Linked DNA regions of Homo sapiens. The protein of the gene in region 1 interacts with the protein of each later gene in a pairwise test. Each region holds a gene or a part of one and is shown in the gene's direction. Other genes may lie near its edges.

Region 1 (3,819 bases):
CTTCCCTCCCACTGAAAGAGGGGACGCATGAGATGCCCATGCTGGCTGAGGCTGCCGTCATGCACTCCGTTCAGCACCCACGGCCCCAGGGAGCATGCTCCCTTCTCATGAAGAGCACGGTGGTGGCTCATTTTCCCCTGGCTATCACAAGCCAGGACCCCAGGGAGCCCAGGCGTCCCCAGGCGCAGAGCAGCATTTAGAGGCGCCAGCTGCCTCTCAGGGGGCACCTCCGCGGTGCAGTGGTTGGGGGTGGTGCATGAGGACAGGGACTATGGTCCAAAGGGACCTCAGGCAGGTGCAGGGCCTGTGGAATCCCAGTGACCTTCTCCACGGTGAGGGTGGAGTTGTGGGTCTCGACTTGATGGCAGAGTCATGGGTGCGGGGAACAGGTGGCCACTCTCAGTCTCCACCCCTGCCCTCTTAACAGCCCGTTGAACAAAGACTGTTGAGCTCTTGGCACATGCCCAGCGCTGTGCCCAAGCACATTACACGTTGTTCCAGGGTCTTCCCAGCGCTGCAGGTGGATCATGCTGCTGTCCCATCTGACAGAGGAGGAGATGGAGGCTCAAGCAGGTTATACCAGGCCCGACCACCAATAAGAGGTCACAGGGCCCTCAGTGCCTACCCTGATTCTCCTTTGCTGCCCCTGCTCCTCTCATCCTAAATCCTCCAAACTCAAGCCCTCCCACGCATCTTTGAATGTCTCCCGTCATTTCCATGAATCTGGCATTGTCTCTATCCCCTCCCATACCCTAGACTAGGGCCCCCAGCAAGGACGCAGCCTCCTTCCTCTGCATCTCTGCATAGAGCTCGGGACAAGGCTGAGTACACACCAAGTGCACAGGGGCAGAGGCAGGGGCAGAGTGGAGCAGGCCCTGAGATAGTTCTAGAAAATGGGCCCCTCGGTTACCTTTGGAGGAAGGGAAGAACCCGGCCAGGACCCTTCTGTGTCTCAACACACGTGCCAGCAGGTATGCGCGCGCGTACACACACACACACACACTGCTGCCACTCCTACCCTGCAGGGAGGGGAGCCCCAGCTGGGATTGGCCCACCCATGGCCTGTCCTGGCTGCCAGCCCAAGCCCCTCTGCCTCCCTTTCCACCCTTTCCACTCCCGGCTCAGGCTCAAAGCTGCAAAGGGCCACTGGAGCAGTTCCCTCACAGCCCTCTCAGCTGCGAGTGGAGATCCCCAAGCCCAGCGTGCTGACCTCATCCCTCACCCAGCTGCCTGTGGCTCTTTGCTCTGTCCCAGGCTCTGCCCTGGAGGGGTGAGGCGGAGCAGGCAGGGCTGTAGCGAGGTGGATAGGAGTCAGTGGACTTTGAACTCAGAGCCTGGTTGGCACCCTGGGTCTCCCCTTGCTGATGTGTGACGACCTGGGGGGTGTGACTCCTTTGGACCCTGATTTCCTCATCTGTAAGGTGGGAGTCATAGCTGGCCTTAGCCTGGGGTCATGGCTGGGGTTAAAAGAGACTGTGTGAGGCCGGGTGTGGTGGCTCATGCCTATAATCCCAGCATTTTGGGAGGCCGAGGCTGGCGGGTCACTTGAGGTCAGGAGTTTGAGACCAGCCTGGCCAACATGGAGAAACCCCATCTCTACTAAAAATACAGGTGGCACACGCCTGTAGTCCCAGGTACGCTGGAGGCTGTGGCAGGAGAATCACTGAACCCAGGAGGTGGAGGTTGCAGTGAGCCGAGATCACACCACTGCACTCCAGCCTGGGCAACGAGCAAGACTCCGTCTCAAAAATAAATAAATAAATAAAAGAGACTGTATGTGTGGGTGCTTGCAACAGGTCCTGACACAAAATGAGCCCTGACAGATGCTGCCCGTTCTTCTGTTGCACCTCTCTGGCAGAGGCAGCATGGGGGGTGTTGAAGTGAGGGGCAGGCCCCCAGGGTCTGGGCTCGTGGTAGCCTGGGCATCACCTGTGTGTGCTCTGCTCCCCTGGGGCTGTACTGGCCTTGCAGAGGCAATTGCTCGTTGTCAGGAAGGTGTCCCCTTTGGGCATCCAAGGGCAGATGATGGCGAGCCTGACCCGACATGGGAAAGCTGAAGAGGACAGGAATGGGCTCTGGCTCCGAGACCTACCTCCAGTGGGACCTGGGCCCTGGACTCCGGCCTCTGGCCCCTCCCATCTCTTGCCCACATCCTGAGGCGACGAGGGCTAGATTCAGAGCCCAGAAGGGCTTTGTTAACTCTGATCGACAAAGGGGTTAACTTTGTTAACCTTCCTGAGGGTTGACCTCATCAGGGCCCGGGGTTCCCAGGTGACCGTGGGCCTCCCTCTGGGGACCTTGCAGATGGTGGTTCTCATGGACCCAATGGAGGATCCCGACGACATCCTGCGGGCGCATCGCTCCCGGGAGAAGTCCTACCTGTTCGACGTGGCCTTTGACTTCACCGCCACCCAGGTGAGGGAGGGCCTGGGCTGGAGACACGCAGGAGCCCCTCCCCCACCCTTAGCCCCACTCAGGAGGGGCCCTCCAGGGCCCCTGCCTTTGAACCTCAGCCTCCACTCCACCTGCTCACCCTCTGTTCCTTGAGCCTTCCCCATTCAGGAAGGTTCTCATGCACACAAGGCACACACACCCGGCCTCCTGCAAGGATGCACTGGGGTTGGCACTCAGACACCACCCTACACGGTACAACTCGCTTGGCTCCTACTGAGCTGGAAAAGGAGCTTGAAGGCCATCTGGTGTGGGGAGGACAGGGGCAGAGGGTGGGTTCAGCGAAGCTGACACCCTCCTCGAGGACCCCCATCTCGCCCATCTGTGGGATGCTCCCAGGAACAGATGTGATGCATCCTCAGGGCGGGGGGCCAGGAGCCAGCTGCGCAGGAAGGCGTCTCAGGTGTCCTGGGCTCTCTTTCAGCCTGACGTCCCCCACTGTGAGTGTAAGCAGAGACATCCCCTCCCCCACCCCCCACCCCCACTTATCTTGGGGCTGGGGCTCCAGGGACAGAAACCTCTCCTATCAGAGGTCAGGAAGAGCCAGTGGGTGCCTGTGCTGTGCCCCGCCTGTGTCCCGGCCCCTGACAGGCTTCCTTCCTCGCAGGAGATGGTGTATCAGGCCACCACCAAGAGCCTCATCGAGGGCGTCATCTCAGGCTACAATGCCACTGTCTTTGCCTATGGCCCCACAGGTAAGGGGAATGCCCAGACTGTGGGCGAGGACCGCAATGCCCCTGTAATCCCCGTCACCCTCCAACTAGTCTGACCCCAGCTGGAGCAGGAATCCAGGATGTGGTCGCTCCACATCTCACCCAGGGCCCTCCAGCCCCAGAGGCCCCAACCCGAGCCGGGGCATCATCCTCCCCACTCCCCACCACCTCCCTGGCCCTCTGAGAGGGCCCAGCCTTGAGGACAAACCCCGGTTTCCAGGAGTGCCTGCCCAGCAAGGCCTCCCTCCCAGCCCCACCCCGGTCACCCTCCACCTTGTTCTGCCCCAGGCTGTGGGAAAACCTACACCATGCTGGGCACAGACCAGGAGCCTGGCATCTATGTTCAGACCCTCAACGACCTCTTCCGTGCCATCGAGGAGACCAGCAATGACATGGAGTATGAGGTCTCCATGTCCTACCTGGAGGTGAGTCCCCCAGCCTAGGCTCAGATGGGGCTGGCCTCCCTCCCTGGGGCTGGTCACTGTGCAGCTTCCCGGGGCGCTCATCACTGCTGCCCTCCTGCATGCCTACTGTGAGCTCCACTTTACAAACATCGCAGGCTCATCAGAGAGGTTAGGCAACTAGGCCAATGTCACACAGTAAGCGAGGGAGCGGGGATTCAAACTCAGGACCCTGCAGCTTCAAGGCCAAGCTC
Region 2 (3,819 bases), on another chromosome or scaffold:
TTAAGAAATCTTACTATAATAGAGAACATAACCCTAATTCTGAATAAAGCTTAAAAGAAAGTATTATGTAGAAATATATATGCATATTTGATAAATACTGTACAGGCATATGATTCTAGCTCTCATCTCCATGTGCATAATAGTAGCTTAAGATGTAAAATCATACTCTTCAAACTGTGCTTTGCTAGGCACACAGAAAATGTCAAAATGCTTATTTCAGACTACCATAAAATTTAATACGTCATTCAATACATGATATTGAAAGAATTATGCAGAAGTGAATTTTAGCTTTAAAATCTTTGAGTCCATAAATATCAAACATCTATTATATGCAAAGTACCATGGTAGATACTTAAATTATCAGCTAAATAGTTAAGGAATCTTAAAAGGCAAAGTACCATAGAATTAAAGTGAGCTAACAAACAAAATACAAAAACAGGTAACAAAGATTTACCTGTTTAATAGATTCCATGTATTCTATAGAAAAATAGGTATCCAGCAGCTGAAAACTTTAAGTGTATATTTAAAATGCTGGTACCCAACATATCCTTAGCAATACAAGTTAGCAGAAAACCCAACATATGTTAACATAAAATATGTGAAATGTCTTCATATTTATGTCTTAAATAATTGATAGACATTTTAATATTATTTCATTCTTCCAAATGTTTATTAACTTTAAATTTATTTTTATTTATTTATTTTAATAGAGATGGAGTCTGGCAATGTTGCCTGGGCTGGCCTCAAACTCCTGGGTTCAAGTGATCCTCTGCCTTCAGCCTCTTAAGTAGCTAGGATTACAGGCACATTCCACCATGCCTGGCTCATGTTTGTTAATTTCTAATTACAAAATAAAATATTTTATAGCCCCAAACACTTTTACTATCAGAAATAAGTTGTATAGTGGGGTTTGTAGATTTTTAAAAAATGAACAAATCTGTGAACTACTATCTAATACATTATTGCATTATTTAAAGCATAATTCAATTTCTATGAAAAAATGTAGGAAAAAAACACATGTTGCCCTCTAACAAACTTCAAAGGATGAATTCATAAATTGGGAACTGCATGTATTACAAATGGAAACCTGACTTCAAATACCAAGATATTTTTATAACCTTTTGCAAGTTAATAAACACAAAGATTTTTCTAAACTAATGCATTTATAAGAACTTCTGATAACTTTAAAAGGCAGAATTAGACTTTACACTCTTATTGTAGTGTTAATCTTTAGGACTTCTAACGTTTGTACAAACAAGCGTTCTTGGTTCTATGATAAAAGATTAACTATCACTATGAGCAATAATTTTAGCTATCGCAGGGGAATTCAATGAAAGTAACACAAAAACTATACTAGCTCGTAGTCTAATAAAATGAAATTTTAAAAATAAGAGCAGTAAAATATAAAAGTGGACCTTCTGTCCTTATACTGAGAGATATTTTATTCAACCACTGATCTGTATAATATTTAACAATATACGGTTTGAATTCATATTTTCCCAAGATTATGACAACTCAGGCACAACATTGTCTTTCAAATGAGTTGTGCTAGGTCAATTTTTCTGCCACTTCTTCCTATCTGGGAGCACTGGACTTGATCTTTACAGTTGTAGTTTTTTATTGTCTTGTCCATAATTCCTAAAATCCATGATCACAAATCAACAGCTTATAACACAAGGCTTGAAAATACCTACGTTAGAAATACTTGAGCAAGAAAACAACACCTTATGCTGATATAAAAAAGACAGGATGTTCACCATTTAAGAGCTTCTCTGAATCTTTGTTTCATTTTATAAGTGATTTAAAAAGTAACAGGGGAGGCTGGGCACGGTGGCTCATGCCTGTAACCCCAGCACTTTAGGAGGCTGAAACGGATGGATCACCTGAGGTCAGGAGTTCGAGACCAGCCTGGCCAAGATGGCGAAACCCTGTCCCTACTAAAAATACAAAAATTAGCTGGGCATGGTGGTACGCGCCTGTAGTCCCAGCTACTCGGGAGACTGAGGCAGGAGAATAGCTTGAACCCGGAAGACAGAGTTGCAGTGAGCCGAGATGGTGCCACTGCACTCCAGCCTGGGTGACGGGGTGAGGCTCTGTCTCAGGGAAAAAAAAAAAAAAAAGTAACACGGGAAGATATGGCATCTGGCCATCCATTGGGTGTTATTGGTTTATTTATAAGTTTTTTTTTTTTTTTTTTTTTTGAGACGGAGTCTCGTTCTGTTGCCCAGACTGCAGGGCAGTGGCATGATCTCAGTTCACTGCAACCTCCACCCACAGGTTCAAACGATTCTCCTGCCTCAGCCTCCCGAGTAGCTGGGACTACAGGCGCAGGCCACCACACCTGGCTAAGTTTTGTATTTTTAGTAGAGATGGGGTTTTGCCACTTTGGCCAGGCTGGTCTTGAACTCCTGACCTCAGGTGATCCACCTGCCTCGGCCTCCCAAAGTGTTGGGATTACAGACATGAGCCACCAAACCTGGCTATAACTTAAGTTTCAATTGATGCCTCATGATCTATAAGTTCAAACAGTATCCGTGGTATAGCTGAAAGAGTATATAAAATGGCTGAAAGATGGCTGTTTGAAGCAAGACATCCCAGGGTCTGAATCCTGGTTCTCCCGTGTTGGATCAGGCAAGTCACTTATTATTTCAGAGTTCAATCACTTATTATTTCAGAGCTCAATCACCTTGTCAAGCAGGGCCCAGCATCTTATAAGCACTAATAGTAACTGGTAGAGTACTGCATGCAAATTAAATATGATTTAGTTGAGATGCAAGTCTAATCAGAGATGAAACAAATGTATAGCAGTAAGAGAAAAATGGCAGTTATTCATTTATGCAGTAAAATGTTAGCCTACCCAATTCTGAAATGGAGGAGAAAAGCAATGAATTAAAGGCACTTCTTTTTGTAAAGTGGAAATTTTAAAAACCAGGAAAAAATTCTGTAAGCATTAAAATGCTTAAAACATTTAAAACACTATCATATTAGACACTGAACCCCAGGATAACTCATATGCTCAAATGTAGTGAAAAAAGTAAAAAACAAAACAGAAACTTTTAAACAATAATTTGAACTGAACTATGTCTTTCTTTTCTGGAAGATAAAGACAGAAGCATTAGAATTTCTGAGATAAATGTATATTTGAAAATTATGTTCTTTTTGGACATAAGAAGTATTTATGATTTGTCCTGCTGCAATAAGTTCATGAACTGAGTACCTCTGTAAACTATAGGAACAGCCCACTTGGAATGCCTTTAAAAATAGTCTTTTACATCCTCCAAAGGGAAACATTTTATGTCCCAGATTTATGGACTGATGCTAATTATTTTCCGGACAAATAGTGTAACCTGACTTCCCAAACTAAAAAGCTGCCCAAAGGTTAAGCAGGTTTCAGATAAAATAAGTCTGCCTCATCAAGATACGGGGTTTCTAGTAAAACTCCTCAGGTTTTTGTACTAATTCAAAAGAAAGCAAAAACAAACAAAAAAATACCCAAACCAACAAAAAACCCAGGCATGCAATGCATACAGGTTATTTTCCTGTACCGTATATAAAATAAACAGCAGTTAAAATTCAACGTTAGTAAAAAACATACTTTTATGACAAATTCAATTGAAAGTTAAACAGAGTTAACTGTTCTCAGCCCATCCTCCCTCACCCCCGGAAAGTACAGCTTAAAGTTTTAAGCTGAATCAGATGCATGCACTTTTGCTACAGCAGGTAGAAAGACAAACACTCTTATTTCATACTGATGATTTGGCTTGTTTCTATGTAGGAGTGTTTTCATGGTTGAGTTAGTTGGCTAGTTTCTGTTAAACA

Evidence for each region.
Region 2: the proteins of KIF19 (region 1) and HTR2B interact in a two-hybrid assay, tested with the Homo sapiens proteins (one large-scale study listed by BioGRID and IntAct).

Annotation. Positions count from the first base shown.
Region 1 is NC_000017.11:74,339,572-74,343,390, forward strand, and holds part of KIF19 (kinesin-like protein KIF19), read left to right. Parts: exon of another isoform or gene 1-573; intron 574-756; exon of another isoform or gene 757-971; intron 972-1,611; exon of another isoform or gene 1,612-1,771; intron 1,772-2,304; coding exon 2,305-2,415; intron 2,416-3,058; coding exon 3,059-3,146; intron 3,147-3,452; coding exon 3,453-3,589; intron 3,590-3,819. UniProt on the Homo sapiens protein: Plus end-directed microtubule-dependent motor protein that regulates the length of motile cilia by mediating depolymerization of microtubules at ciliary tips.
Region 2 is NC_000002.12:231,118,252-231,122,070, reverse strand, and holds part of HTR2B (5-hydroxytryptamine receptor 2B), read left to right. Parts: intron 1-3,819. UniProt on the Homo sapiens protein: G-protein coupled receptor for 5-hydroxytryptamine (serotonin). Also functions as a receptor for various ergot alkaloid derivatives and psychoactive substances.